Regions from separate parts of the Homo sapiens genome. Here regions 1 and 2 are each linked to region 3. The links come from fine-mapping of genetic effects on gene expression. A gene starts in region 3. Each other region holds a variant in brackets. All regions are shown on one strand. Distances are from middle to middle.

The links. PIP is the estimated chance that this variant, and not a neighbour inherited with it, causes the effect. A credible set is the group of variants that fine-mapping cannot tell apart.
Region 1: its variant is the best candidate, but not a certain one, in a credible set for the expression of CEP128 in monocytes (Quach 2016, PIP 0.78).
Region 2: its variant is the best candidate, but not a certain one, in a credible set for the expression of CEP128 in aorta (GTEx, PIP 0.64).

What each region holds. Positions count from the first base shown.
Region 1 is chr14:80,903,690-80,914,240 of GRCh38, reverse strand. CEP128 (centrosomal protein 128) reads left to right here. Exons shown (of 25, transcript NM_152446.5): 5 at 8,160-8,286; 6 at 9,310-9,428. Among named protein-coding and RNA genes, the nearest start is that of CEP128, 33 kb to the left of the region's middle. The variant A/TGA (reference allele first, on the strand shown) is at 4,870.
Region 2 is chr14:81,220,975-81,231,525 of GRCh38, reverse strand. GTF2A1-AS1 (GTF2A1 antisense RNA 1) reads right to left here and starts at 10,308. Exons shown (of 2, transcript NR_135252.1): 1 at 10,001-10,308; 2 at 8,146-9,887. It also overlaps a transcript of GTF2A1 not described here. RefSeq lists a silencer at 10,403-10,551. The variant G/A (reference allele first, on the strand shown) is at 5,672.
Region 3 is chr14:80,935,840-80,946,390 of GRCh38, reverse strand. It overlaps CEP128 (centrosomal protein 128), which reads left to right and starts at 4,653. Exons shown (of 25, transcript NM_152446.5): 1 at 4,653-4,810; 2 at 6,851-7,006. RefSeq lists enhancers at 4,359-4,438, 4,739-4,818.

The DNA of each region.
Region 1 (10,551 bases), 32 kb after region 3:
AAGGAAAAAACCATTGTGAAGTGCTTTAGATTTTAAACTGATTTATTATTTTATAGTTTAAGTTTAGGTTAGCTTGTCAGATGGATTGCTAACTAGCTTATATAAATTAGATTCTATTGAATTTGAAGGCTTTACATCAGAGAGAGTAGAATTCAAGACATGAATTTAATGGAGACTTGGTAAACTTGGGCCATGGAGAGACCCCTCATGTAGAGTTAAGAATTTTAAGGATGGTTTATTTTAAAGTAATATGTGTTTATTGTTAAAACAAAAAATGAAAAAATCCTCTCTCAAAGCCCCTTTTTAATTTTTTAAAATTTCTATTGCTGTAGTGGAACAAGTGGTTTTTTGGTTTCATGGATGAATTGTATAGTGATGAAGTCTGGGATTTTAGTGCACCTGTCATCCAAATAGTGTACAATGTACCCAATAGATAGGTTTTCATCTTTTACCCTGCTCCCAACCTCCTCCCTTCTGAGTCTCCACTGTCCATTATACCACTCTGTATACCTTTGCGTCCCTTCTGAGTCTCCAATGTCCATTATACCACTCTGTATACCTTTGCGTCCCTTCTGAGTCTCCAATGTCCATTATACCACTCTGTACACCTTTATGTACACATAGCTTAGCTCTCCTTTATAAGCGAGAAGAAGTGGTATTTGGTTTTTCATTCCTTAGTTACTTCACTTAGGATAATGGCCTCCAATTCTATCCAACCTCCCTTTGAGCCCCACTCAAAAGAGGTAACAATTTTGAGAGCTTGTTTCCAAACATTTTCTATGTATTTACAAGCATATGTGCGATTTGCTTTAAAAATGGAATCATATTAAATATAATGTTATACAACGTTTTAAAATTTAATAATGTATATCACTTTCCATATAACTTTGTGTAGCACTACTTCATTGTTTTGAACAGTTATACCGTATTCCATAGTATGAATGTATCTAGTTTTTCTTTTTATTATAAACATTATAGCAGTGACCATTATTGTACACACACATACATATGTTTTTGTAATCCTGTAGGATTGCTGGAAGTAGAATTGCAGGGTTAAAGGATATATGCACTTAAAAATTTGCTGGATATTTCAAAATTGCCCTTTCAAGGATGTTCCAGTTTATACTTACTTTACATGGGGATGTAAGAAAAAAATGTACTCCAGAGTTCTGGAATAAAGTTAATAATGTATTTTTAATTAATGTCTTACTAATTCTATCTTCTACTTTTCTTTCCTTTGGAATTGCTTACTCCTGTCCTGTAAACTCTTGGAAAACCAATTAAACTTATTCCTTCATGTTTCTAATGAGGGGTATATATACAGTGTGATGAAAACACTAAAATCACATTGTATATGTACCTATCATTGGAAACATGAAGGAATAATGACTGTTTTATACATATCTGTGTTGTATTGAATTGTCACGTAACTCCCAAGTTGTAATTGACGGCTTGTTATTATTATTATTTTTTTTTACAAGTAAAGGTATAGTTGTCATTAATCACTTGTAATTGCAAGCTAATGGGCACAGGGAAACATATCTTCTCTCATAAGGGTTTCTACTATTTTTATTTAGAAAATGAGTTTGGACATCCTTGTATTTACAGGATTTTTATGATTTATGATGTACTTGACCAATGGAGCTCTATAGACTTTGTTATATTTGGGCAGTTCATGAAATGTTTCAGATTCATTACCTTATTAATAATGGGAATTGAGTCTTTGCTTTTTAATTTATTAGTGAAAAATTGAAAACATTATTATTAACCATTAGTAGAGTATAGTCCTACTTTGTAAAGTTGAATATTAGATCCCTACTTAGGGTAGCAGATTTCCTTTGAATTGGGCAGTTGGGAAATTAAATTATGTATACCCAATTTGAGGTATGATATATTCCATAGCACTAAATATTGTAATGTTAAGAAAGCAATTTTCAACGAGGGATCCATTGTCATCAAGTCTCTGTGGTAAGCCTAGAGTTGAATAATGCTAAACTTTCTGAGGGAGTAGTTTTTTTTTTTTTTGAGGTGGAGTCTCGCTCTGTCACCAGATTGGAATGCAGTGGCGCGATCTCAGCTCACTGCAACCTCCGCCTCCCAGGTTTAAGCGATTCTCCTGCCTCAGCCTCCCGAATAGCTGGGACAACAGGCGCATGCCACTACGCCCAGTTAATTTTTCTATTTTTAGTAGAGATGGGGTTTCACCATGTTGGTCGGGATGGTCTCGATCTCCTGACCTTGTGATCCGCCTGCCTTGGCCTCCCAAAGTGCTGGGATTACAGGCACGAGCCACCGTGCCCTGCCCGGGAGTGGTTTTATAAGTGGGAAGTAAATAAATTCAACAGGTATTTCCATCTGAGTTGTAAATACATGTTTAGGGAATGACAAACTCTTTAAAATAGCTTCTCCAGATTAAAGCATTCTATTTCATCATTCTATTTATTTTTTACTTTTATTGTCATTGCCTTTAATCATAATGATAAAAAGTATCATTTACTGAACGACCAAATCTACCTCAGGCATTGTTCTAATTATTTTACATAGATCATCTTATTTCATCCACAAAATAAAACATGTAAGAAAGTTAGAAAGTTATCTGATGGGGTGTGAAAGATGCAGAAAAGAGCGGGGGCAGAAGTAAAAGTAGTACAGCTGAAGAAAGCAAATGAAGCTTTTCTTTGGTCCTTCTGAATCACATATTTCTATTTTTAAAATTTTATTTGTTTACTTATTTTGAGACAGAGTCTTACTGTGTTATCCAGGCTGGAGTGCAGTGGTACAATCACAGCTCACTGTAGCCTTGAACTACTGGGCTAAAGCAATTCTCCTACCTCAGCCTCCTGAGTAGCTGAGACTACAGTTGTGTACCACTACACCTGGCTACTTTTTATTTTTTACTTTTTTAGTAGGGATGGGATCTTACCATGTTGGCCAGGCTGGTCTTGAACTCCGGGGCCCAAGTGATCCTTCCGCCTTGGCCTCCCAAAGTGCTGGGATTATAGGCGTGAGCTACCATACCCGGCCTGAATTATAATGTTTTAAATGATCACTTCTGTTATTTGCATTACCCATTGTTGCCCAGATGATCTCCTTTCATAGATTTAGGTTGGAGTGTAGTCAATCCTTTTGCGTTTTATATGCATTCTTTTTGAGTTCATTAACCTTGAGTTACATTTTGTTTCTAATCAGAGTTTTTCCAAATAGAGATATCAAAAGGCTTTCAGAGATCTCTGTGAGAATTTTAAAATTTAGTTATTTTATTTTCATGGTAATCTAAAAGCATCTACAGTTATTTTTCAGTTCATTTATATATCAGTTTCCAAAATAATTGGTTTCCTACATCTTCTTGTGGTGACCAATGACTTTTTTTACCCCTTGAGTATCATTATTAACTTACAATTATATGCATATTTAAAGTGTTTTAGTCCATTGCAGTTAATATTTTTATTTATGCTCAAATTGTTTTATCTTTGGCTAGAGGGAGCCTACTACATGCTTAAGTCAGAAAAAGCATGTCTTGATGATTTGGATAAACTACCTGTGTTAGTCCATTCTTGCATTGCTATAAAGAACTACCTGAGACTGGGTAATTTATAAAGAAAAGAGGTTTAATTGGCTCACCGTTCCACAGGCTGTATAGGAAGCATGATGTTGGTATCTGCTCAGCTTCTAGGAGGACTCAGGAAACGTACAATCATGGTGGAAGGCAAAGGGGAAGCACACACATCACATGGCCGGAGTAGGAGCACGGGAAGGAGTGGGGAGGTGCTACACACTTTTAAACAACCAGATCTCATGATAACTCACTCACTATACAGTACCAAGCGGGGATGGTGCTAGACCATTCATAAGAACTCTGCCCCCATGATCCAGTGACCTCTCACCAGGCTCCACTTCCAACACTGGGAATTATAATTGAACATGAGAATTCGGTGAGGACCCAGATCCAGATCATAGCCATTCAATTCCAGTGCCCAAATTTTATTTGCATTTATACTGGTGCACAGTAGTTTCCATTGTTTCAGTCTAATATCAAAAGAACAGAGGTAAAAGAATAGACCTAATCTTTAAATCATGCATTTATATCAAGTGAGATATTAATATACATTATATTATGTTCTATGATGTCCATTTTACAATATTTCATATAGGGGAAAGTGGGGGAAAATAGGATCATCATTTGGTATCTGGTGAGGTAGTCCTAGTAGACTCAAAAGAATTTATAACATTGTAGTTAGTACCACAGTCTTTGGTAAGATTGATTAGTTTTAGGAAAATAACATCATCCATCATAGAAAATGTTAGATTGAGTTTTATTAATATTATTTTGTTTTTATTTAATTTTGTTTGGTTTGGCGTTACACCTAGTAAGATGTTATAATCCAAAAGAGTTTAAAACAATTTTTATGACTTCGTACTTTGTCTCTTTATTTCTTGGTTTTTGTGTTTTAGGAGTTATCAAATTGGCTCCATACATCACTAAATTTTGTGCAGTGTCTGTTGTGTTGTGTTGTGACTACTTAAAGTGTAGATTTTAATTCTATTACATTTTTAGTTTTATGTTTTAGGTGCAAAAATTGTTTTTGCCATAATGCTTGGAAGAGTAATTTAAAATCGCCTTTATTTCATTCATCTCCCTTTACATAACGTAATTTTATTTTTTGGACCTTAAAAATCATCCTATTCATCTTCAATGGCTTCGGATATATCTTTTTAGAGTTTTAAAATGGGGTTGATAGATTAGATTTTGGGGAAGTGTTTCACTTCTCTTGTTCTTTAATGTTCTTCTGTTATGTCCCATGGTAACTTTTTTTCTTTTGGTGGCAGGGAGTTTGCGTGTGTGTGTGTGTGTGTGTGTGTGTGTGTGTG[A/TGA]AAATTCACTTTATTTCTGAGCTTTTAGTTACAGCTTAGGATTTGTTAGCAAATAAGCCTACATAAAAAGGATGCTGGCAAGATCTGCTTTTGGCATTGGTAGGTAAGATTATTTCAGATCAACTCTTCTACTGAGAACAACTAGAAACATGAAAAAAAAGTAAAAAATAATATTATGAATCCATCAAAGAACTACTAAGGCAGTGAGGAATTATGTAGTCAGAATCTGGCAAAAAACTTAAGTCCAGAAGGGTAAGTCTTATATTTGGGACTTTCTTCCTCCTTCAAGATGATAGCTGATTCCTAAAGAGGTGGATTAAAAGCAGAGAGGCTAGGATCAGAGTTATCAATTAACTTAAGAGGCTAGGAAGACCAAAGCTGGAGTTCAGGAACCCTTTAGCTTTAATGGAGACCCCAAAGGGTGATAGTATAGGCAAAGTGGTGAATTGGAAATGAGAAGTGATAAACTGAAAATAGACCAGCCTTCACGGTGACAGAAGCCAGTCCTTGAACCACTTCAGTTCCTAACTGGGTTAAGGTGATTTGAGATTGCTAGTGACCCTAACCTGACTTTCTATTAGAAGCAGAACCAGATTTTTCTGAAGAAAGATGTCATCCTCTAGAACTTTAAATTATTTCTACAACTTCTCATGTAAAATGTCTATCACATGATAAAGAATACACAGGCATAAGAGAATATAAAAGGTGTCTGAAAACCAAGGGAAGAAGCAGACAATAGAAACATATATGGGACTATAAGGTAACCATGAATAACATGTTCAAGAAATTAAAAGAGTAGATTAAGAGTTTTGGAAAATAATTGAAAACTAAAAGGCACCAAATGAAAATTTCAGAAACTGAAAAATAAGATAAATAAATAACCAACTGACCTTGAATGAATAGAGTGAACAACAGCTTGTGTATAGTTGAAAGAGAATTCATGAATTGAAAGATAAACCAGCATAAGATATCCAAAAAGAATGGAAGAATGAAAGATTGAAAAAATATAGAAGAGAAAAGAAGACATAACAGCATTTGGTAAAAAGGTATAACTAAAATGCAGTTGCATTTCCAGAAGGAGAGGGGAGAGAGAATGAGGCAAAAACAATGTTTGAAAAGATGATGCCTGAGAATTTACAACATATGAAATTTATTAAGCTATGGATTTTGTGATCTCTGTGGGTCGGAAATGGGATAAATACAAATAAAACTGTACATAATGATACATAATAAAATCACTGACAAAAGTAAAGAGAAAATCTTAAAAATAGCCAGAGCTGAAAAGGCAGATTACCTTCAAAAAGAAGCAGTAGTAAGAAATGATAGCTGACTCTGCTTTCAAAAGGATACTGAAATTGAGTTTAGCTTGAAAGATGGAAATAATAAACACAGCAAAAGTTAAGAGAGCTGATTTTACGTTTTATTTCTGACGCTAATTTTTATGATCAAAATCACTGTAGTGACTTTTCTAGTCTGTTTCTCATGTTACAGTTTGAATTTGAGCTTTTTAGCTTTAATATTGTTTAGTTTTATTCTGATAATTTTGTCATAGATTACTGATATACTACTTTGTGATCACTACATAAGACCTCTGGTCTACTTATATGTTATTTTACTTATGTGTAAATTACTCTCAAGGTAAACCTTGGTTTTCCTGGGCCTCATAGTATGTTTTGTGGATTGATGCTGAGGTTTTTTTTTTTTTTTTTTTTTTGAAACAGAGTCTCGCTCTGCCGCCCAGGCTGGAGTGCAGTGGTACGATCTCAGCTGACTGCAACCTCTGCCTCCCAGGTTCAAGCAGTTCTCCTGCCTCAGCCTCCCGAGTAGTTGGGATTACAGGCACCAGCCATCATGCCCGGCTAATTTTTTGTATTTTAGGAGAGACGAGGTTTCACCATGTTTGCCAGGCCATTCTTGAACTCCTGACCTAGTGATCCAGCCGCCTCAGCCTCCCAAACTGCAGGGATTACAGGCGCGAGCAACCGCCGATGCTGCATCTTATAGCTGGCTGGCGAATACTCAAGGCAGGATGGTATTGTACATATCCCAGTTTAGGTAAGGAGGAGACAGAGGGGTGTGGAAACCCCTCTTTTTTTTTTCTTTCGGAAATGAGAGGGACAAAAGAAGCAGCTTCCTGAAATTCTAACTCTACTTCTTTTAATACAGATTGTTTCAATTAGAGCAGCCAAATCCAAATAGCCAGACTGAAAAAGGGTTTGCTTCATTTGTGACTCACATTCTGTTTCATCTGTTCTTTTCCTTCGGTTGAGGCTCCTTTCTTTCTGCTCATTTCACCAAGTAAAGCAACTTGTTCTCCCCGTAAATGGTGTTCTACCTTTTAACGCTGGCTGAATTTAGGAAACCTTGTCTTCTCAACTAATCATTTTGTTTTGACATTCTACTTAAAGAGTTATAGATGACTTGTTCCATGGATCCATGCATTATGTTTAAAATTATTACTTTCTATTCATCCTTGAATAAGATATCTAGACCCGAAGTTTCCCAGCAATTCAGGGTGTATGGATTTTCTTCAGCTTTAATTTTTTTTCCCTTGGGTCTTAGTCGAATCCTCTTCTCAGGCCTATAGTTGTGTACAGCTCTGGACATTATTCTCAGTATTTAGCATGTTTTTATTTAATGTAGCTCTTTAAGTCTAAAGGTATGTTTTTATATGTTCCCTGTTGGCTGACTCCTTAATAAACTGAATAAAGCATTTGGACAACTGTAGTTCTTAGTGTGTACTGGCAGTCTGATATCTGACCCAATCATTTTCTGGGATTTGAAGTCTTTGAATGACTGAAAGAGGTACTCTGATAAAGTTGGACAGTGTACATTGTTTCAGTAGCAGCTGTCACTGTGACAGCTGTTTAGTTTCCTATTTGTTGTAGACCTGGAGTTTCTGAAGGAATATTTAGAAGGGAGGAAAGCTTTCTGTCTTCTTTCAGTTGTGTTGACCTTGTTATGTTTCTTCGCATGAGTGGTGCACCAATTAGACATTTCAATTTGGTTTTGTAAGCCCTTACACAGTAGACATCTCTTCCACATCTGGCAATAAAAAATGGAATAGGTAGTGACAGATGCCTTTTAAAACCAGATTTTAGCATTGGTTCTTAAAATATTTGTATTTACTATTTTTATATTTTAAACATAACTTAGTTTAAAATTTTCTGATACCTTTTTTTGGGGGGAACCCAGATATTTCAGAAATAGCTTTGAAAATCTGTGGTCTATTTGTATTTGGAAGTTGTTTAAGAAGAATAACGCTTCATTCATTATATTCTTTAAATTAGTTAAAAGAAAGCTTGGAACAATCAATCGACCAACTCCGGAGTCAACGTTTATTGAGAAACTCAGGAGGGAGAAGTATTTCTGTTACAAGTTTGAGTGCAAGTGACCTTGATGGTGGCACTGGGTCAGGTAAACACTTCAAATGTTCTGAAAAACATTAAAAATATTTTTGAAGTAGATATTGAATACATTTAATTTTTGGAGAAATATGACCCACACATAACTTCATGCAGATTGGATGATAGTACATGTAGTTGTCAAGGATTTTATAGTACATGCTTTGAAATATATTGAAGGGTCTTTGTTGTTATATTGTTTTTTTTTTTTTCTCAAACTCTGTAGACCACATTAGAGCTTTACCTGACAAAAACTTAGATTTAATTGTCTGCTGCCAAAGAATCAAAACAAATACATAAATTCGCTATGTGATACACTTTAGGTTAGGTATCCTGTCCTAGCGTAATAGATTTTCACATGTTTTATGAAATACCCTGTGATGCTTGTTAAGACCAGGTGAATTTTAGTCTTGGCATGCAGGTAGATATGAATGGCTAGCTTAAAGCTTATGACAGTTTGTCTTAATTAATCTTACTTACACTTTTGTATAGCACTGAGATTCATGTTTGAATCGAAAAGCCTGCAGTGAAGGAAGGTGATTTAGATAATTGAACATTGGTACCTTACATCGTTAATATTACTGTTGATTATGGTAACAATGATTAAAAATTGGGCACTATTTTTTCATGTAGTTAGTTTTTATTTTTATATGCTGTTCAGATTGTAGACTATGTAGTTTGAAAAGTTGTTTTTTTTAGTATTAAGTTATATTAAGGGGTCATATGAGTTTTTTATTTAGAAATTTATTATTTTTGTATGAGAAAATATGTTGCTTCTTGGAGAGTATAACAAATTGAAACTTTTGAGTGTTCTATTTCCAGGTTATTTCTGTTGTTCATTTTATCTGCTTTAAGAGCATGATTAATGCTAATTTGGTGGAACTTTATGGCCATAGCAAGATACTTGGGAAATAGTCTGGGTTAGGGACATGAATATATGTATATCCATGTCTGCCATGTTTGTACTGAGTAAAATTTTAGATTGTCTCTTCTCATGCAGTATTTTAATACCTTCCCTTTTCTTTCACTTGTGAAGAGCTCCATCATTTTCCACCTACCTCACCTCTCAAGGACTATGGGGATCCACAGGGTATTAAACGAATGAGATCAAGAACTGGTGTCCGGTTTGTTCAAGAGACTGATGATATGACTCAGGTACTTTGTACCATTCTGTAATTTGTGTGCAGTATTTCCTTATGCTTCTATTGTATATAAATGACTAATGCTTGAACTTTAAGGCTATATTTTAACCAAGAATTTGATCATTAGTAACTTTATACTGATCCCTTTTTTTGGAACCAAGTAAACGACTTTTACTTTTTATTATTGTTTTCTTGCTGAAAAATCATAGTTGTATACATTTATGGGGTATAATATGATGTTTTAATATATGTATGCAATGTGGCATGATCAAATCAAGTTAATTAACATCTATCACCTTGCTTATCATTTTTTATGGTGAGACATTTGAAATTTATTCTCTCAGTTATTTTGAAATATATAATACATTATTATTGACATTGGTCATCCTGATGTGCAATACATCTCAAAACCTATTCCTCCTGTCTGTCTGAAACTTTGGACTGTTTGATCAACAACTCCCCTTTCTCTCCCTCTTCACCCCCTCTCCCCGCCACCCTCTGGTAACCATTATTCTACTCTATCTTTCTATGAGTTAAACTTTATTAGAGTTCATACACAAGTGGGATCATATAGTGTTTGTCTTTCTGTGCCTGGCCTTTTTTACTTAACATAATGTCTTCAGATTCATCCATGTTTTTGCAAATGACAGGATTTCTCCCTTTTTAAAGGCTGAATAGTATTGCATTGTGTATATATACTACATTTTCTGTATCCATTCATTCACTGATAGACACTTAGGTTGTTTGCCGATCTTGGCTGTTGTGAATAATGCTGCAATGAACATGAGAGTGCAGATATCCCTTTGACATACTGATTTCAGTAGCTTTGGGTATATATCCAGAAATGGGATTAATGGGTCATATAGTAGTCTTATTTTTAGTTTTTGAAGACCCTCCATACAGTTTTCCATAATGGCTGTACTAGTTTACGTTCCCAGTAGGGTACAAGGGGTCCCTTTCCTTCATGTCATGTCCAACACTTATCTTTCATCTTTTTGATAAAAGCCATTTTAACAGGTGTGAGGTGATATCTCACTGTGGTTTTAACTTGGATTTTCCTAAAGTTTACTTTTGCTGAATATTTTTAAAAATGTACCTATTGACCATTGTATGTCTTCTTTTGAGAAATGTCTGTT
Region 2 (10,551 bases), 290 kb before region 3:
CTCTAACATTTTAATCTCCCTAACCCTTTGAATCCATTCCTCTATATTAAATTAAGAGACATCAGTCATCTCCAACTCACTCTTGGTGGGCCACTTTTTGACCCATGTTTCAGCAACCAACCAAACTGTTAGAGCCCTTTCTAACTCTCTGATTTAGAAATAATGTAATATTTCTGTAATATTAAATGCAGAATCTCAACTTAGTGAGCCCATATCTATACATTCAGCCTGATTCAACTTTGTTTCTTCTACTATTCTCCTACACTCTTAATATTCATTCCCATATATGTTCCCCAGATTTCTCCTTATATAAATCAGAAAACTCAAGTAGTTCTTTTGGAATGTAGTGCACCTTCTCATGGGTCACACTTTTTAACTCAAAGTAGGCCCTTCAGGGATGGCAGGGGTAGATTAGATCCTGAGAAGAACCAGCACTGTCTTGCATAGCAACTGCCTCAGAGGAAGCCATTACTGCTTCCTCAGGGTTAAATACCTCAGACTGAGGTAGAAATACGGAAACCACTGTGGGTGGGAAGGCTGCTACCACCAGAGGTGGGGAGACCTATGCCATTTAGGGTGGGGAGGCCACTTTCACTGGGATTGGGAAGGTTACTTTTGCTGGGGATGGAGAAACCTCTTCCACTGGCAAAGAAGATGCATCAGAATTTAGGGTCTCAATGTCTGTAGCTTCATCAGGCTCTTCCTACATATCCCCATCCCATCTTACAGGATCCCACTTTTTCTCAACCAATGCCATCACTTTAACAGTAGATATCACGTGAGGCTGGGAGTTCAACTTGCTTTGTAATTCAGCCAATTGCACAATGAGATCCTGGGTTTGATTTTCAGCAATTTTAGCCCTGTGGCTACAGGAGTTAATGATTTCTTAGGGCACAACTACAAGTTTTTAAGTCATTTATACAGTGAGTGAGCTGGAAATTTGAATCCTGAGCCCCTCCTTTTCTTTTACCACTTGGTCCTACATTAGAAGCAACAAACCAATGTCATTATATTCCTTATTTTCCATTGTCCAAAAATGTTCAAAAGTATCATATACAGAGTTACTTAGCTCTTTGCTTCTTATTAGTTAGGAGTATCCAATGCAGATATTTTATATATCTCTAGAAACAGTTCACTCCCTGGACTATCAGTACTTTCTGTTCCTCTAGAACCACTCTCAGTACCAAAATATTTTATTGGTCAGAGTTCTCCAGGGAAAGAGAACCACTGGAGATTACACACACAAACACACACACACACATGCACACATACACACACCCACACACACATTGGGAATTGGCTCACATGATGATGGAGGCCAAGAAGTCCCATGATCTGCCTTTTACATCCAGAGAACCAGAAAAGCCAATAGTGTATAGTAGTCCCCACTTACCTATGGGTTTTCCAAGACCCCCAGTGGCTGCCTGAAACTACAGAGTACCAAACCCTATATACGCTATTTTTTCCTGTATATACATATTATAAAGCTTAATTTATAAATTAGGCACAGCAAGAGATTAACCACAATAACATAAAACAGAACAATGATAACAATATACCATAATAAAAGTTATGTGCTGTCTCTTACTTGCTCTAACGTTCTCAAATTATCATAGCGTACTATACACTCACCTATCTTCTTCATGTTATGATGTGAGATTATAAAATTTCTGATGAAATTTCCAGAAATAATTCATACATTTTAAATTACACACTGTTCTGAATATCATGAATGACACGGACATTGTGATATAAATGAAATTACCAGAAATAAGCAATTCGTAAGTTTTAAATTACATGCTGTTCTGAATATCATGATAAACTCTCACACTGTCCTGCTCTGTCCAACCCAATTACAATTAGTCACTTAGCCGTACAGGTTATCAGATCAACTGGCCCAGTATCACAATACTTGTATTTAAGTAATCCTTATTTTACTTAATAATGGCTCCAAAGCGCAAGAGTGATGATGTAATATTTTTGGACCTCTGTTGACTGCAGATAGCTGAAACTTCAGAAAGCAAAACCATGTATAAGGGGGGACTACTGAAATTTAGTCCATATGTAAAGGCCTGAGAACAAGAAGAGCTGATGTCCAAGAATAGAAAAAGATGGCTGTTTCAGCTCAAACAGAGAGAATGAATTCACTCTTTCAATGTGTGGTTCTATTCATGCCCTCAGCAGACTGGATGATGCCTGCCTACACTGGTGAGGGCAATCTTCTTTACTCAGTCTACTGATTTAATTGCTAATATTATCCAGTAACACCCTCACAGACACACCCAGAAGTAATGTTTTCACCAGCTATCTAGGCATCCCTTAGCTCAGTCAAGTTAATACATAACATTAACTATCACATAAGGATTCTACCCAGTGTTAGGGAAAGCATGGACCTACTGACACCTTGGTTTTTTTGTTTTTGTTTTTGTTTTTTGAGACGGAGTCTCACTCTGTCGCCCAGGCTGGAGTGCAGTGGCGTGATCTTGGCTCACTGTAACCTCCACCTCCTGGGTTCATGCCATTCTCCTGCCTCAGCCTCCCGAGTAGCTGGGACTACAGGCATGTGCCACCACGCCTGGCTATTTTTTTTGTATTTTTTTTTAATAGAGACAGGGTTTCACTGTGCTAGCCAGGATGGTCTCGATCTCCTGACCTCGTGATCCGCCTGCCTCAGCCTCCCAAAGTGCTGGGATTACAGGCATGAGCCACCGCGCCCCCCCGCCCGACACCTTGGTTTTAAACTGCTAGCTTCCAAAACTGTCAGACAATAAATTCTTGTTTTTTTGTTTGTTTTTGTTGTTTTTTGTTTGTTTGTTTTTTGAGACAGAATCTCACTCTGTCGCCCAGGCTGGAGTGCAGTGGTGCATCTCGGCTCACTGCAAGCTCTGCCTCCCGGGTTCACGCCATTCTCCTGCCTCAGCCTCCCGAGCAGCTGGGACTACAGGCCTCTGCCACCACGGCCAGCTATTTTTTTGTATTTTCAGTACAGACGGGGTTTCACCGTATTAGCCAGGATGGTCTCGATCTCCTGACCTCGTGATCCACTTGCCTCGACCTCCCAAAGTGCTGGGATTACAGGTGTTAGCCACCGTGCCCGGCCAAATTCTTGTTGTTTTAAGCTACCTAGTTTGTGGCACTTTGATACAACAGCCCTGGGAAACAAATACACCTTACTTGTTATCCACATGAAAAGATATTCTAGAGTCACTTTGTCTTATTTTGGGCAATAATTGGTAATTTCATTTGGTTTAAACATTTTTTTAATCCCAGTCCTAGAGTCAGTAATATCTCTGAAGAGCCATTATTCCTTGGAAAATAGTATTTCAAGATAATGATCTGGGAGCAAGAGGTGCTCCCAAATTCTGGAGCACTGGACTGGTCATGGTTTGTTTTAGCTTTTATGGGGACAAATATATTTTATAAGATGAAACATTGAGTTTGGGTTTTTTTTGTTGTTAAGAAAAGACATTTCCTGCTCTTGACTTGGAATCAGAATCAGACATTTCTCCACAGAGCACTGGTCTTGAAATCTTATAATTTAGGTACCAAATATACTCATTACTACTGTGTTGGTAATTGTTTCTAGGCCTCTTCAGAGCCAGCAGGGAATTTTGACAAAATTCACCATGATACTTCTAATTCAAATTCAGGACTACAGAATTTGTACTTATCCTCCTGTACCTTACATCTGCATCGTCTTTCTCCCATATGATAAGAGATTAGCATTGTGAATGAGTAAATAAGATTGCCCTCAATAATGCAGGTAGGCCTTATCCAATCTATTGAGAGCCTGGTTCTCAAGAACAATTGGGATTAGATAATTAGAACATAATATAATTACTCGTATTCTTTAATCCACATTTCACATAAAATTATCAAAATACATTTCCAAACATTATCACCAACAATACAAATGCAAACACTTAAATGTTTTTGGACATTTCTTTTTCTCCTTAAAAATATCCCACTATGGATATCTAGTCAAATTATTGTGTTTGAAAGTCACTTGAAAAAGTTCTTTGTGTGTTATGTAATATCCGGTTAGGTTAAGTAACTTAATTTTTAGTTTGGGGAATTGCTTTTCAAAAGTTGATTTTTAAAAAACTAAGTAAAATGTGTGTTTTCAGTCAAATCTAAAAAACAAAGTACATTTAAATAACGCTTTTTTTTCTGTCTTCTCCATACTCTTCTCTCCCAGTCCTTATAGGTAACCTTTAAAGATACATACATATGGTTTATATTTCCTTTTTTTTTTTTTGAGAGGGAGTCATGCTCTGTCACCCAGGCTGGAGTGCAGTGGTGTGATCTCAGATCACTGTAACTTCCACCTCCCTGGTTCAAATGATTCTCCTGCCTCAGCCTCCCGAGTAGCTGGGATTTCAGATGCCCGCCATTGTGCCCAGTTAATTTTTGTATTTTTAGTAGAGACAGGGTTTTGCCATGTTGACCAGGCTGGTCTTGAACTTCTGACCTCAGGTGATCTGCCCTCCTCAGCCTCCCAAAGTTCTAGGATTACAGGTGTGAGCCACCGTGTCTGGCCATATTTCCTTTAAAAAAAAAATAGTAAGCAAGTATATTACACACATTTTTGTATTTTCTCTTTTCTTAAATGGAGGCAAAGAATACTTTTCCACATCTTGCTTTTTTCATTCAGCATTATATTCCAAAGATCAATCCATAGTGGGCATATATATATATATATATATATATATATTCCTTATTTCTTCTTCCAGCTGCATAGTCCTCACCTGTGTGCATGTACTATAGTTTATTCAACCAACCTCCTTATATGGACATGTGGGACATGGACGTATTATATAATCTTCTTATATAAAATATTTACTTTTTATATAAAGTAAATATAGTTTATATGGTAGGATGGGTGTTAATGCAGTCCTACAACAAATAGTCTGAGGCATACATCTTTTCTTATTTTTGCTACAGTATCTGTGGGACAGAGTCCTAGATTTGGCATTGCTAGGTCAATGGGCAAATTCATACATAACTTTTACTACATATAGTTGGGCACATGTGTAACTAAGCAATCTGATATATTTAATCAATAAATCAGCTTTCAGCTTAAGGAATCATCTCATTATATTAACATACAAAAATTATGCTGTGGGCTGGGCGCGGTGGCTCACACCTGTAATCCCAGCACTTTGGGAGGCCAAGGCGGGTGGATCACAAGGTCAGGAGTTCAAGACCAGCCTGGCCAAGATGGTGAAACCCTGTCTCTACCAAAAATACAAAAATTAGCAGGGCACGGTGGCAGGCGCCTGTAATCCCAGCTACTTGGGAGGCTGACGCAGGAGAACTGCTTGAACCTGTTGGGGCAGAGGTTTCAGTGAGCCAAGATCGAGCCACTGCACTCTAGCCTAGGAAACAGAGTGAGACTCAATCTCCAAAAAAAAAAAAAAAAAAAAAAAATATATATATATATATATATGCTCCGTACTTATAACCAGCTCAAGTCTGACTGCTCATTGCTCAGAGGCTGAAAGCATGAGAAGCGACGTGTAGTGAAAGGAAAGCAACTTTATTCCAATGTTAGCAGTTGGGGGATGGACAGGCTCATGCCTTTAACAGATCACTCCAACTTTTTGGAGTGAGTGAAGGGGTTTAAGAAGCAAAAAGGTGTGGGAAATATGCAGGAGTAGCGCAGGAAGGT[G/A]TAGGTCTGTGTGTCTTCTTCTGACGGTCATCTTCAGTAACTGCCTGCCTGAAGGCCCAGTTCATGTCATCCTGACCTCAGCTGGTAGTGCTGGGCTAATGGTTCCTAATCCCCCTTGAGCAGGAGGATTCTGCAGTTGGGGTCTCTCTGTCTAGTTTGTTTCAAAATTGGCCCCTGGAATTTTTAAGCAAGCACATCATTAAGATAAGTGAGCCCTGTTCTCAGAAAAGGCTGGTGGGAAAGGGACAAACAGTTTCAAAGTATGTTTCAAGGCTGAAGGCAAGCAAGAAAGAAAAAACAAGTTTTAAAATGCATTGTGAGGCTGGGATGCTGTTAGATATTCACCACTTGAGTTATCAAAATTTGGCTGAGTTTCTTGTAAAGTAAGCATTGGCCACTGACATCATTATTTAAAAAAAAATTTTTTTTTTGAGACAGGGTCTCGCTCTGTCACCCAGGCTGGAGTACAGTGGTGCAATCTTGGCTCACTGCAGCCTCTGGGTTCAAGTGATTCTCGTGCCTCAGCCTCCTGAGTAGTTGGGATTACAAGTAGGCACCAGCATACCCAGCTAATTTTTGTATTTTTAGTAGAGATGGGTTTTCACCATGCTGGCCAGGCTGGTCTCAAACTTCTGACCTCAAGTGATCCACCCACCTCAGCCTCCCAAAGTGCTGGGATTACAGACCTGAGCCACCACTCCCAGCTGTTGTTGTTTTTTTGAGACAGAGTGTGTCTCCAGCTCTGGTGCCCAGGCACGATCTTGGCTCACTGCAACCTTTGCCTCTCATGCCTCAGCCTCCCAAGTAGCTGGGATTACAGGCACATGCCACCATACCTGGCTAATTTTTAGCAGTTTTAGTAGACACAGGGTTTCGCCATGTTGGCCAGGCTGGTCTTGAACTCCTGGCCTCAAGTGATCTGCCTGTCTCAGCCTCCCAAAGTGCTAGGATTACAGGCATGAACCACAACATGCAGCCATCATGATTAAAATGTAATGGTAGTGTTCTACAAAGTGATTTAAGAACATCTTTCCCCAGCTTTGATGATATTGGTGTAGCTGTTACAGTTACCATTAATAATAAAACACCCACCAAATACTTGTCAAAGCACTTCCTACTACCTTTGATTTTCCAACAACGATAGGTGGTGGTGATTATTTCACCTTATTGACACAGAATCATGGCACAATGTCACACAGGAATTTAGTGGCAAGAGTCAAACCTGATTCCACCAAAACTCCACACTAAGTTAATTTACTTTTGCTAAAAACTACAAACTGGTCTACACTTTGTTCTACAGAAAATAACTTAGAGCTGGTTGGTGTTTTAAGACATGAAGTAGCAATTTCAAACTAAGTTACAACAGACAAAGATAATTTAAAAAGATTTTAAAAAATCTCTTCATCACATGTATAGAACTAATTTGTATGGTCAGCAATTTCTTATAGCCACCATCAAAAATTTGTGCATGTGAAAATCGGCAGTTTCTTTGAAAATGACAAAAACATAGGTGAAATCTGAATGCAGTATAATTTTTTTTGGTAGGACTGAAATATGTATGCTTTCAACAGCTTAAATGAATGCTATGACTATGCACTACACTTTAAAACAGGGACTTTCATTAAGATTGGTAAACTTGCTTGGCACGGCGGCTTACGCCTGTAATCCCAGCACTTTGGGAGGCCGAGGCAGGTGGATCATCTGAGGTCAGGAGTTTGAAACCAGCCTGGCCAACAATGGTGAAACCCCGTCTCTACCAAAATTACAAAAATTAGCTGGGCGTGGTGGTGTGAGTCTGTAATCCCAGCTACTTGGAAAGCTGAGGCAGGAGAATAGCTTGAACCCACGAGGCAGAGGCTGCGGTAAGCCGAGATCGCACCACTGCATGCCAGTCTGGATGACAGAGCAAGAGTCTGTCTCAAAAAAAAAAAAAAAAAAAAAGAAGGAAAGAAAAAAAATGATTAGTAAGCTCAAGGCATCTTTCTTCTTCAATTCTGTATCCTCCCAAAGTGCCCAATACATACTGAGCATACATACATACATACATACAAAGTGCCCAATACACACTGAGCATACATACATACAAAGTGCCCAATACATACTGAGCATACATACATACATACATACAAAGTGCCCAATACATACTGAGCACTAGGGCCTAAATATGCCTCAAAACTAGTTTTGTTTTTTTTCTTTCTTCACTATTTAAGAAAATGGAGTTTGCTGGGAAGTCACAAGATTTTAGTTTAAGCCAATTTCCACAATCTTTTTAGACTCTTCTCTTTCTTGGCATTGTTGCTAAAATAGTCATTTGGACAGTAAAATATTTAAATGTTTGGACACAGAAGGTTTGCTGTCATTTTGTTGATGGTGTAGCAAAATTTATACATCGATTTTTTTTCCCTTTTCTTCTCTTGTTTTACAGTTATCTAGTGTTTAGGCTGCATATTAAAAGAAAGACGCAACATTTTAACTCCCAGTATAAATCATTTTGAAGTTAAAAAAAACACATAAACATTCATCACAAGGAGAGTACTATTATGTATCTATCTAAGTACATAGCTGCTACAAAGTGTAAGATCACAAACAGCAAATCCTGTATAAATGTTTTATATAGTAGAAAGAGCTGTTAAAGTTAGAAACGTCATTCAAGCTGTAGGAGACCAAGAATAAAAAGTTCAGATAGAAACAATTTAAATATGATGCTAAATGTAATCTTACTTGGGAGAAGTTTTCTCTCACAAATTTTGTTTTGTGAATTAAAGGGCTGCAGCTTCCAAGTATTCAGTCCTACAATTTTGGTATAACAGAAAATATTTCTTTCCGAAACTAAACTGGATGGCACACATATGTTGCAATGAAGGCATATAACAGCTATTGAGGGACTGGAAAACCAATATATTGGAATGGAATCCATGATGGCTAGATGCCAGACACACAAGCAATCTAAGTTCCTGGGTAAATATTAACCAAGTGCTTAGGTCTTGTTGCAATCTAGGTGTAAAGAGAGAAGCCAACTCAGAGCCTCCAGGGAGTCTGATGGTCTTAAGGAGGCCAAGACTAGGTTTTCTGCCATTTTAATCCAGTAACTACAATCCATTATTTCACAGATTAATTCTGTGAAGAGCAAACCTCGTAGCTTTTCTTCCCTGTCCTGTCTGCAGTGGTTTTAACTTTAATTGATGGCGAAACTACTCAACCTTTTAGTCAAGAATATCAATAGTAGGGGGGAAAACTAGGTGGAAGGTGAGGGATTCCATGTGCAAAGCGTTTGGGAGTATGTAATAGGGAGGTAACAAGAAGTCCTCTCAATATGTAGTAAAACTTAACAGGAATGGTATTGTTTAGTGTAAATTTTCGGGCTGTCACCTGAATATTAAATGAATTACAAATGTTGATAGAATCATAACTTTATATAATATACCAAGAACACTGATTTCCTGTGATTTTTTTCTTTAAGTGTCCCAGACCATGCAGCTGTGCAGGAAACTGGGAAGCAACTGTTAACAGGGGAATGGACTTGGCGTGAAAAGAAATGTCAAGGTTCATAGATATCCTCTACACCCATTCACAATCTCCCATTTTCTGAGTATTCAAGGCCTCTGGTTTCTCTAATCCCTTTCTTCAAGTCTTGGCAAGATGCATTTTTTTTCCTCTTTGGTAAGACGCCTTTGATATTCTTCAAATCTGGTTTCACCAGCACAGAACTTTGACGTTTCGTTTTGCTTTGTCTCTGGAAGACAAACTCCCTCACTCATCCACGCGACATTTCAAGTCCCTCAAAATTCCCAGGGACAAGAAAACTAGGTACTATGAATTCTGCCTTCCAAACAGCATTCTCTGTTCTGCTTGCAAGGTCGATATAAAGGCAGGATTTGCTTGGGCAGAACAAGTCAAAAGCTTATTGAATTGCACTTATTGAATTGAACATGGAACACAGCCGGCTTGCTCTCTTATAGCGAGAGGCCATGCGAGTTGGTGGGTCAAGGGCATGCATTTCAAAGTGATCAGTCACTATACGTTGGCCACATGGAGTCGCAGTATTTTGGCAATATTTTTAAAAACCAGGGAAAGTTACTGTGCTGTTACAATCCAAAGGCTGGTGGGGTTTTCTTCCACCCCGCATTTCCACTAGCGTGATAAATTATTTAAAGTACGTGGCCTAGTAGAGGACTAACCTCTGGGTAACATAAGCCTAGTCTTCGCAGCGTACCCACTGTGGAAACAAACGAATCAGACGTTACTAATTGTGGAATGTTAAAAGTAGGCCCCGATCGGCTTTTACTCCCTTTGGAAAATCCTACACAATTCTGCGCGCGAAAGACCCACCCTCGGTGAGGCGGTGAGGCGCGAACGCCGCGAAGCTCACAGTCAAAGCCTCGCTGACAAATCAAGAGATGACTCCGCATTTAAAACCTTCCCGAATAGGAACGCGCCAGAGGCCGGAAGCCACGCCACGTGACCAGTCCTCCTCCGCGGCCATTCCTAGCGAGGCAGTAGGCACCGCCTCTGTCACATTTCCTAGCTCCTAAAGCGCGGGACCAGGCGGAAACGTGCGACAGGAGGCGGTCCCACCTAGCTTTGGACTGGAGTGTCAGTAGAACTCCCGTCTTTTCCAGCAACGCTTTGCAAGTTCTTCACCGCAAAGAACTGCCGCAGACTTCCGCCTGGGTGCCAACCACGTGATCACGCGAGCGTTGGAGAGGCGTAGGTCCGATTTCACTACTTCACTCCCCGGGCTCCGCCAGTCCAGTACCCGCCACGGCGCGTGACAACGCGGCTCGCCGGCGGCCTCCGCCCCGGCGCGCCTGCGCACGCGGCTCTCGCGGTGTCTCGCGCTCAGCCCCGCCCACCTCTGCCCCCGCCCTTTCCGCCCCTCC
Region 3 (10,551 bases):
TCATGAGGCATCATCATGATGCATCATGAGGCATCATCATGATGCATCATGAGGCATCATCATGATGCATCATGAGGCATCAAGGTATTAATAAATTCTTTGTTCTAAGTGTCTAGAACAAAATAATAGAGTACCAATATTCATGGAACTAACATTTTTAGGATGTCATAGTATTTGTCAGCCTACATATAATGTCAGCTTACATTCAATAATGCTTACCATGAATTAGACACTAGGCTTAGTGCTTTACACACATTAATTTATTTTATCCCCCAAACACCTCTACACATGAAGTGCTATTTTTATTGTCCACATTTAGAAGAGGAAGAAATGAAGGCACAGAATGATTAAGTAACTTGTTTGAAGTAACATTGCTGATAGGCATTATAACGGACTTGAATCCAAGTGGTTTGGGTCCAGAATCTGTGCATTTAACCACCTCTAGTTGCCACTAGTGTATTGTGGAAAACAAGTACAGGAAATACAAATGGGAATAACAAGGCTTGGATCCAGGAACTTGGAAGTTGTCAGGAACGGGGGCTGTATTCTCTTGGGCTCATTTCCTCGTGGTTGTGTAGTTTATTTCCTTTCACTGCTTTACTCACTTCTCTCTGTCTGTGCAGGTTAGCATTGTCAGCTGCTTCTTGAACACAGGTGAAGATGGTCACCTCTCTATGGCGGCCTCAGCTCTTACCCGTACATCAAGACTATTCTAGCAACCAATTGGGAGCTTGAGTGCCCATTTTAAATTCTCAAAGGATAAAGAGCCTGATTGGCCCAAATTGTCTCAGGTGTCTCTCTACTCCTTGTCTAATCAGCCATGGTGAGACAGGTAGGGGCTTTGTATAACATAAACAAGGCTATAGGGGCCCAACACAGTGGGTAGAATCATTCCCAGTTTAAGGGGTGATGTGGGTGAGGCATATCAAAAATATCTCCCGCATCTACCTCAATCAAGGTATTACGTAATGAGATCATTGATGACACTAATCCTGAATAGGTACAATTTTGGGGAAAACATGTTGAAATCTTAACCCCCCATGTTACTGTTTTTGAAAATGGGACCTTTAAGGAGGTAGTTAAGTTTAAATTAGGCTATAGTATAAAGTTCTAATTCAAGATAACGGGTGTCGTTACAAGAAGAGAGAGAAACCATGTATGTGCTCATACAGGGAAAAGCCTATCTGAGGATACAGAGAAAAGATGGATCTCTGCAAGCCAAAGACAGAGACCTTAGGAGAACCTAAACTTGCTGACACATTGATCTCGGACTTGCAGCCTTCAGAATTGTGGGAAATAAATTTTTGTTGTTTAAGTCACCCATTCTGTGGTATTTAATCAAATCCCTAGTAAACTAATACATCATGTAACCTCTGTGTGCCCCTATCTGTAATACATGGTTTGCAAAAGAAGGGTACTGCAAATGATACTTGTACTGGTTTGTTTTCACCCTGCTATGAAGAACTACCTGTGACTGGGTGATTTATAAAGGAAAGTGGTTTTTTTTTTTTTTGTTTTGTTCTGTTTTTTCTGTTTTTTTTTTTTTTTTTTTTTTTTTTTTTTTTTTTGAGACAGACTCTTGACTCTGTCGCCCAGGCTGCAGTGCAGTGGCACGATCTCGGCTCACTGCAAGCTCTGCCTTCCGGGTTTACGCCGTTCTCCTGCCTCAGCCTCCCAAGTAGCTGGGACTACAGGCACCCGCCGCCACACCTGGCTAATTTTTTGTATTTTTAGTAGAGACGGAGTTTCACCATGTTAGCCAGGATGGTCTCGATCTCCTGACCTCGTGATCCGCCTGCCTCAGCCTCCCAAAGTGCTGGGATTACAGGCGTGAGCCACCGCACCTGGCAAAGGAAAGTGGTTTGATTGACTTACAGTTCTGCATGGCTGGGGAAGCCTCAGGAAACTTACAATCATGGCAGAAGGGGTAGCAAACACATCCTTCTTCACATGGTGGCAGGAGAGAGAAGTGGGCAAAATCCTCTTATAAAACCATCAGATCTCCTGAGAACTCACTCACTATCATGAGAACAGCGTGGGGGAACTGCCCCATGACCTAATCACCCCTCACAAGGTTCCTCCCCCAACATGTGGGGATTACAATTCAAGAGATTTGGGTGAGGACACAGAGCCAGACCATATCAATACTCTTTGTGGGTTTTTCTAAATCTAAGCTCAGATGATTCTGCTTGAGTATGGTATTGTGTTTGTATAATGTGTGTTGGCCATATTGATTAAAAGTAATACATATCTTTGGGAGTTATGAGACAATTTCATGTAAAATCTATTTTGTTGGTTTAACTCATTTTGTCGGCTTTAACTCATTTTGTCTATTTTGTTAAGACATAAAAAACAAAGATTCAGTGATGTGACTTCACTACTTTTTTTTTTTTTTTTGAGATGGAGTCTTACTCTGTCACCAAGGCTGGAGTGCAGTGGCACCATCTCAGCTCACTGCAACCTCCACCTCCCAGGTTCAAATGATTCTCCTGCTTCAGCCTGCCGAATAGCTGGGATTACAGGTGCCCACCACCACACCTGGTTAATTTTTGTATTTTTAGTAGAGATGGAGTTTCGCCATGTTGGCCAGGCTGGTCTCGAACTCCTGACCTCACGTGATCCACCCACCTCAGCCTCCCAAAGTGCTGGGATTACAGGCTTGAGTCAGCACCCCTGGCCTGACTTCACTACATTTTTTTGGGATGCCACGTCTGTTGACTGAGAGCACACCAAAGCTGACAAACAGCTGCTATGAATTTAGTAACATATTTAAGCATTTCTTGATCAAAATGAACGAAAATATCTGATTTTTAACCCTTTGGTCCCAGTTGTGTCCTGTAATGTTTGATTTATTTGGTTAATATCACTTTGAAAAATAAGGCCTATAGAATAGAATCCAATTCTCTAAATATGGTTGAACCAGGGAGGAAAAGCTGTGGACAATCAGTTTTTATTAATGTAGCTCGTGATTACATTAGCTCTTTTGGTAGACATTTCTCCTGCAGTTGATCTGATTATCACTTCTTCAGAAAGTTTCTCTTTTATGTCTTTCCATACAAACCTATGCAGTATTCTATTACACAGAGATTTGTAATCATTTATTGTCTTTTTCTCTCACATGGCTCTGAGCAATTTGAAAGCAAAGTCTATGTTGTTTATTTTCACTGCAACTTCAGTGTCTAAAACAATGTCTGGATACTAGAAATATACAGCATACATTTGCTGAATTACATAAATGAATAGAATTGTTTTGAAAGTTAAAATGTTTACAAATAAACAGTTATTATTATGCTTCTGCATGTATATGGGGCAATTTTATGGCTGTTCTGAATTATCTTAAACTCTGTCTGGTGGAGTGTATTCTTGAGGAACAATTTCAAGTAAGCAGCTTGAAGATAGTTGCAAATGCATAGGAGGTCTTTGGAAGAATTATTTTATGTTCAAACCAATATGAGATAGTTTTATGTCTCAGTGTTGGCCAGAAAAAAAATTTGAATAATACGACTATATCAAATTTATGTGCTAATTATTTATGACTCTGCCTGTTGGGAGGGAGGAGGGGTAAGGAGGGATGGAAGGAGAGAAAGGGGGAGAGAGAGAAAGAAAGAGAGAGAGGGATATGAACGGAGAAGGGCAAGTGAGGAAAGGGTGAGAAGAAAGATAAAAATGTACAAAAAAGGTTAGGTCCCTTTGAAGGGCTAATAGAGGGGACCAACTGGGAAATGGATTATAGAGCACAGAATTATTAGATTAAGGAACCCTTGTTATTAAACATGATCTAGCTCTTCTTCACGTAGCCAGGAAAGCTTTCACAGATCAGGTAATATTTGAGTTTAGCCTCAAAGAAGGAAGGGGAAGTGGTCTTTTTGGCAGAGAAGAAGGGCAATTCATATGACTAATTTAATTGTTACTTTTTAGCTTTCCAAAGTTCAGTTTTTTATTGAGGTTTTCATTCTCTTCGTGACTGAAACCAACTCCCCTGAGTGGAAAACATTTCTTTTATGTTCTAGAGTGAGGAGATGACACCTAGACTGAAGTAGCAGCAGTAATGAGCTGACAGCCTCACATCTACTTTTGGTGTGCCGTGAATAAGCCATATGATCTTAGGCAAGTCCCTTACTCTTTCCAGGCCAAACAGGTTGGCCTACATAATCTTCTCTGTTCCCGTCCGCTTCTAAGAATTTGTGAGTCTTTGGAACAATATACTGGACCCTGGTATTAAGGGGATTTTTACATTTCAGTGCTAGAAATTGTCTTTCCCTGTCCTCCCACCGCTCCCTTGCCCTTTTTCTACTTCCCCATCTTACCGTAGTCCTGGGGGACTCCTTTTGTCCCCCAAGGAGTAAAATTACAGTCAAGGCCAAGGAAGCATTTTTATTCACTTTCTAACTGGAGTTTGCCTCCTACAAAGGAGGCTGGTCCTTTAACAAAAAAAAAAAATAGAGCAGGGCAAGAGGGCGCGGCCAAGGGATCAGGCTTTTATCCGGGAAAGTTACCCGAAGGCCAGCTATATGGCATCCTGGGATTTGCAGTTCCTTTTCGGGACTCTCTCCCTTGGTAATTCCTTGATCATGAGGCCGAGATGGACTACAACTCCCAGAGGGCCAAGCGGCGGCAGCGGGGTCCTGTACTCTTGCTGTGGCTGGGCGGCTAGTTCAAGTTGCCATAGCTGCGAGTCTGGGGAGAGCACAGTCGGTTGAGTCGCTGCGTTTGGTCAGTTGCACCTTCTGGGTCACTGGTAGCCGCGGGAGCCGGGTGGGGCCTAGGCGATGATCCGGCATTAAGGAGCTGGGATCATCCTCCGTCTCAGGTACCTGCCCCCACCTCCCCCTTGCCCTTTTTCGACCACTTCCCCGTCTTACTGTAGACGTTTTAGTCCCACTTCCCCTCGTCCCAGGGGTGGGGACCTCAGAGCGGCGCGGGATCTGGGGTGGGGCCGTGGATGGGTGGAGTGTGTGCAGAGGTGAGGGGAGACGGCGCGCCTGTCATCCCGAGGCCTCCCTCCCTCGGCAGGGGTGTCCGCGGTCAGGTCCTGGCCAGGTTACCCAGCGAATCTGGACTACATTGTCCTTCCTTTGGGAGCAGCTTGCTCTACCGCTAGCATCTGTGAAGCTTTAAGGGACAGGAGATTGGACTCATTCGGTAGGTCCTCCAGAGGACCGTCTGACATTTGCTTGCCTGTCCTGCAAGCAAATTTGATTTTTTTTTTAATACCTGTTTTGTAGTCACAGAAAGCGTGCTACTCTCGGGAACGCTTTATTAGTGACCTCTCTTTCCCGTGCCATCATAGGATTTGCTCCAGCCTTAGCTGTTAGCAGTCCCTTAATTGAATTATTTCGTAAAAATACCTGACATTGAATCCCAGCTGCATCTTTTATTGGTTTGATGGAGCCAATCTGTTATGTAGGCGTCTGGTAAAACTTTACCATTAATTGCAGCATTGATTTGAGTATTATGTAAAGTATCTAGCACAGTGCCTGGCACCCTGCAAGTGCTCAGCATTTGTTGTTTATTTTTTATTAATTATGCAGATTAGTGTTGTCTAATACAAATACAGTGTGAGCCACTCAGGTGAATTTAAATTTTGTAGTACCCACATTAAAAAAGTAAAAAGAAACTGGTGAAATTAAATAATAGTTTATTTAGCGCAATATAGAAAAATGTTTTCAATGGAGTAAATATAAAACTTATTGAGATTTTTACTTTTTTTTTTTTGAGGAGTCTGGCTCTGTCGCCCAGGCTGGACTGCAGTGGCGCGGTCTGGGCTCACTGCAACCTCCACCTCTTGGGTTCAAGCGATTCTCCTGTCTCAGCCTCCGGAGTAGCTGGGATTACAGGCACTCGCCACCATGCCTGGCTGTACATTAAAAAAAAAAATATTTTAAGTCATCAAAATCTCTTGTGTATTTTACATGTATAGCACATGTCAGTTTGACCTGGCAAGAGCTAGAGCTCAGTAGCCATGTGTCTAGTGACTGCTGTACTGGACAGCACTAGAGATAAGGTTAAAACTTTGGCAGTTTCACATTGGCACACATAAATTTGGTTGTGCCTATGACTCATTTCATGGGTGATGGTGGCTGTTTTGTTAGAAGAGTGAAGTGTGCACTGTGCCTATGTTCTCTCAGCGTATCTTGTCTGCCATTGCATAACCTGGGTCTCTTTGAACTGTTTCTTGACAGTTTATTTTGATTAACTTTTTCAGAATACCTTTTTTTTTTCTTGAAATGGTTTATAGATGTATTCCCAGATCTACCTTTTATGTAGACAACTCCCAGTTCTCTGGATCACTTCCTGTGGATTCTTACAGATTGCTTTGAAAGCAGTCACAATTAATTGAAAATATTTCTGTCCACAGCTCTTTTCTACAACCAAAGGCATTTTATTCTTATTTATTTAATTGTAGCACTGAGTATGGGAAGAACTGGGCATCTTATAAAATATTTCCTTTAGGAGTGTTAGACTGGCTTGGAAGTATAATTGGGTCACCACATTCAGCAGTAACATGTTAACTGTATTACCTGACTTAGTTACCAACTTTTAGACATGCTCATACATAGTACTTTTTGGCTAGACTTGGGCTGCGGTTCACACTGGAGCATGAACTCTCTGGCAAGCCCCAGGGATGCCCAGGCATGGATGGAAGTCACCAGTGACAATATGTGGGCTGGGCACTTGGATGTGAAGAATTGTAGTGAGGTCTCTTGGGCTTTTGAATCATTCTAGGAGCATTTTCTCTATTCTGTGTTATGCCATAGTCTGTACATAGGGACTTAATTTTCATATTTCATTATTTAAAAATGTTTAAAGTTGTAGGTATGTCTTACCCCCTTGTTTTGTTTATTTGTAGGTGGTTTGGGGAAAGTGTAGGGGCAACCAAAGATCATCGGCTTGACTAGGCCCTTTGCCCTGAACCTCATGAAGAAATGATAGGAGGCAGACATATGTGCCTAAAAAGAGCGTTGAGCTCAGAGAAGAGCAACTCGGAGTTTTGGGGGTGTGCTTTGTAAGTATGCTTTCTCCCTGAGTTTCTGAGATAACACATTTTTTGCATATTTATGGTAGAAAAGACTATGCCAAGAAATAGAGTTTTGGGAGCAAGAAGCCCCTTCTAATATATGGTTTAAAAATAAAATATCGAATGATTGTGTATGCAGTGTTGCAAAAATTCAGATGAACAAAGTAGATAAGTTGAGATATCCTTTATAACCTTAACAAAAGCAACAGTGATGTACCTGTTTCTATTAAGCAAGGAATTGAGAACCTGCTTTGTCTCAGGCATTCTGTCAGACACCTTTTACAGGCATTATATAATTCCTTTACCATGCTTATCTTTTACAAAGGAGACAGTTGAGTCTCAGGTTATTTAATTTGCTTGGGATTCTGGAGCCAAAAGAGTGATCATTGTTCCCAGGTCTTCTGACTCCAAATTTCAGTCCCACCCACTGCCAAGGGGCTTCATTGCTGTTTATAAGTGCCCTCTAATAGAATTTGATTCACACTTAACATTTTTGGATTAAGTGGACCATATATGGCACAGTGTGCAGTTATTCATCTCTTTCAATGTTCAAAAAGTTCTATTATCTTTCTTAGTTTTTTAAAAAAAATATAGTGGTCCTTATATTATTATTGAGGTAAGAGATCATTATAATTTGTGATTTCCATAAATAAATTCAACATGAATTATCATTGATAATTAAGGGTGTAATGTTTAAAGTTTAAATTTACAACATAGATGTAAAAATTCTGGACCTTTTTTTGGATTTCATATTGTGCTCGATAGATAAAAGGCTCTGAAACATAGAGGGGAGACACACTGCGGACTTGCAGTACTAATACTGTGTGGCCGGGCGCGGTGGCTCACGCCTGTAATCCCAGTACTTTAGGAGGCCGAGGCAGGCAGATCACGAGGTCGGGAGATCGAGACCATCCTGGCTAACATGGTGAAACCTTGTCTCTACTAAAAAATACAAAAAAATTACCAGGCGTGGTGGCAGGCGCCTGTAGTCCCAGCTACTTGGGAGGCTGAGGCAGGAGAATGGCATGAACCCAGGAGGCAGAGCTTGCAATGAGCAGAGATCGCGCCACTGCACTCCAGCCTGGGCGACAGAGCAAGACTCTGTCTCAAAAAAAAAAAAAAAAAAATACTAACACTGTGTATTAAGATCAGTGGTGTACAAAATTTATAGGATTAGGCCAGGTGCATTGACTCATGCCTGTAATCCCACACTTTGGGAGGCCAAGGCAGGAGGATCGCTTGAGCCCAGGAGTTTTAGAACACCTTGGGCAACATAGCAAGACCCCGTCTCTACAAAAAAATCAAAAAATTAGCCAGGCATGGTGGCATGTGCCTTTGGTCCCTGCTACTCGGGAGGCTGAGGTGGAATGATCACTTGAGCCCAGAAGGTCGAGGCTGCAGTGAGCTGTGATCACACTACTACATGCCAGCCTGGGTGACAGAGTAAGATGCTGTCTCAAAAAAAAAAAAAATTCTTAGGATTAAAGAATTTTAGAGCTGGATGGGGGACCTATTGGGATAATCTGGTCCAGAAATTTTGGAAATAATATAAAAATAATCTAGATTTACCAGGTTATTAAAAACTATATTAGCATGTATATTATAGAATACACTATCCATGTAATGTCTCTGGGTTGATTCTGATATAAAGTAGTTACAATACATTCATACTATTGTATAGTATGTTTTTCTTTTTTCGTAAAATGTATTGTTACAGGTCAGCACTTACCATTCAACCTTGTCTCTTTTAGCAGATACATAGTATCCCAGTGATTAGATACATTTATTGTATGCTTATCCAGTGGATTTATATTTTTTTCTTATTCTTTTACAACTGTAAAAAAATTCATTCACTCTGTTGCCCAGGCTGGAGTGAATGAATGTGCTCATGGATGAATGGATGAGTGAATTAAAATTTCTGAAGAATTTCTACAGTGAAATTCTTATGCATATGTCTATACATAAAATATATATAAATATTTTATCTTCCTAGGTTAATAGTCATAGAAATAGATTTTCTGGGTCAACGTCTATGTATATTACAGATTGATTGAGACAGGGTCTCACTCTGTCACCCAGGCTGAAGTGCAGTGGTGCTATCTTGGCTCACTGTAGCCTCTACCTCCCAGGTTTGAGAAATCCTCTCACATCAGCCTCCCGAGTAGTTAGGACTACAGGTGTGCACTACCACACCTGGCTAATTTTGTTTTATTTTTTTGTAGAGACAAGGTCTCACTGTGTTGCCCAGGCTCATCTCGAACGCTTGGGCTCAAGCAATCCTCCTACCTTGGCCTCCCAAAATACTGTGATTACAGGCATGGGCCACTGCGCCTGGCCCGTATTATTTATTTTTACTTGTATTGCCAGGTTGTTCTCCAGAAAAGCTAATGTGGTTTTTTTTTTTTAAATTTTTAATTTTTGTGGGTACATAGTAGATATACATGCTAATGTAGTTTTTATAGTTAATACTCTTACAACAAGGTATAACCTTGCTAACCCTGCGAGTGAGAGGTTTTTTCATCTGTATAAAACAGATAGATAAGAATATCATTTTATTATTTTAATTTGTAATTATTTAGTGAAATAACAAATAACATTTGTTAGGGTCATTTGATTTCTGTGAATTGTCTGCTTATGTATCTTTTGAGTCTTTTACAACTGGACTGTTCTTTTTCTTGTGTTTTTGAAAGAGCTGATTAACCCTTTGGTTCCCATATAATGCAAATATTTTTGTGAGTTTTTCTTTTAGTTTTTAAAGCTTGTTTCTGGTATCTTGTTATCACTAATTATGAATGACTCAGAGACTTGTCAGGCCTTTATCGGATATGCACACCTCTCTGAAATTTCTATAATGCTAGTGCTTGGGGTATTTGGGAGATGGGAGTATTTGTGGTTACATGAATCCATTTAATTCATTCTGATAAACATTTTCCCATCCCTCCTTCCCTCCTTCCCTGTCTTCCTTCCTTCCTCTCTTTCTCTCTTTCTTTTGAGATGAAGTCTTGTTCTGTAACTCATGCTGGAGTGCAGTGGTGTCATCTTGGATCACTGCAGCCTCGACCTCCCAGGTTCAAGTGATCCTCCCACTTTGGCCTGTCAAAGTGCTGTGATTGCAGGCCTGAGCCACTGTGCCTGGCCTGATAAACATTTAGAATCTACTCTGCATACAGGGTTTGCTGTGAAACAGGTGCTCATGAATGGATGAATAAGTGCTTGTGAACGAATGTGCTCATGAATGAATGGATGAGCTTTAATTCTGTACTTCCCAGGCACTGGTCCATTTGATTCTGTCTCCTGCTCTGAAGTGCTGGAGCAGGGTGGACTCCTGATGAAATTAGAGCAAAAATACAGCCTGGAACTGAGCCTGCTAGGTTTTGGTTATGGAATAGAGATGTCTGTGTGTAAGAAAGCTTTCTACTTTTTTGAGTTTGGGCAAGTTAACTTTTGGAAGTTGTTTCCTTACCTGTCATATTGATTACAGCTATGTTTACTCTAGGGCTACTGTTGGGGTTACATTAGTTAATACAAGTAAA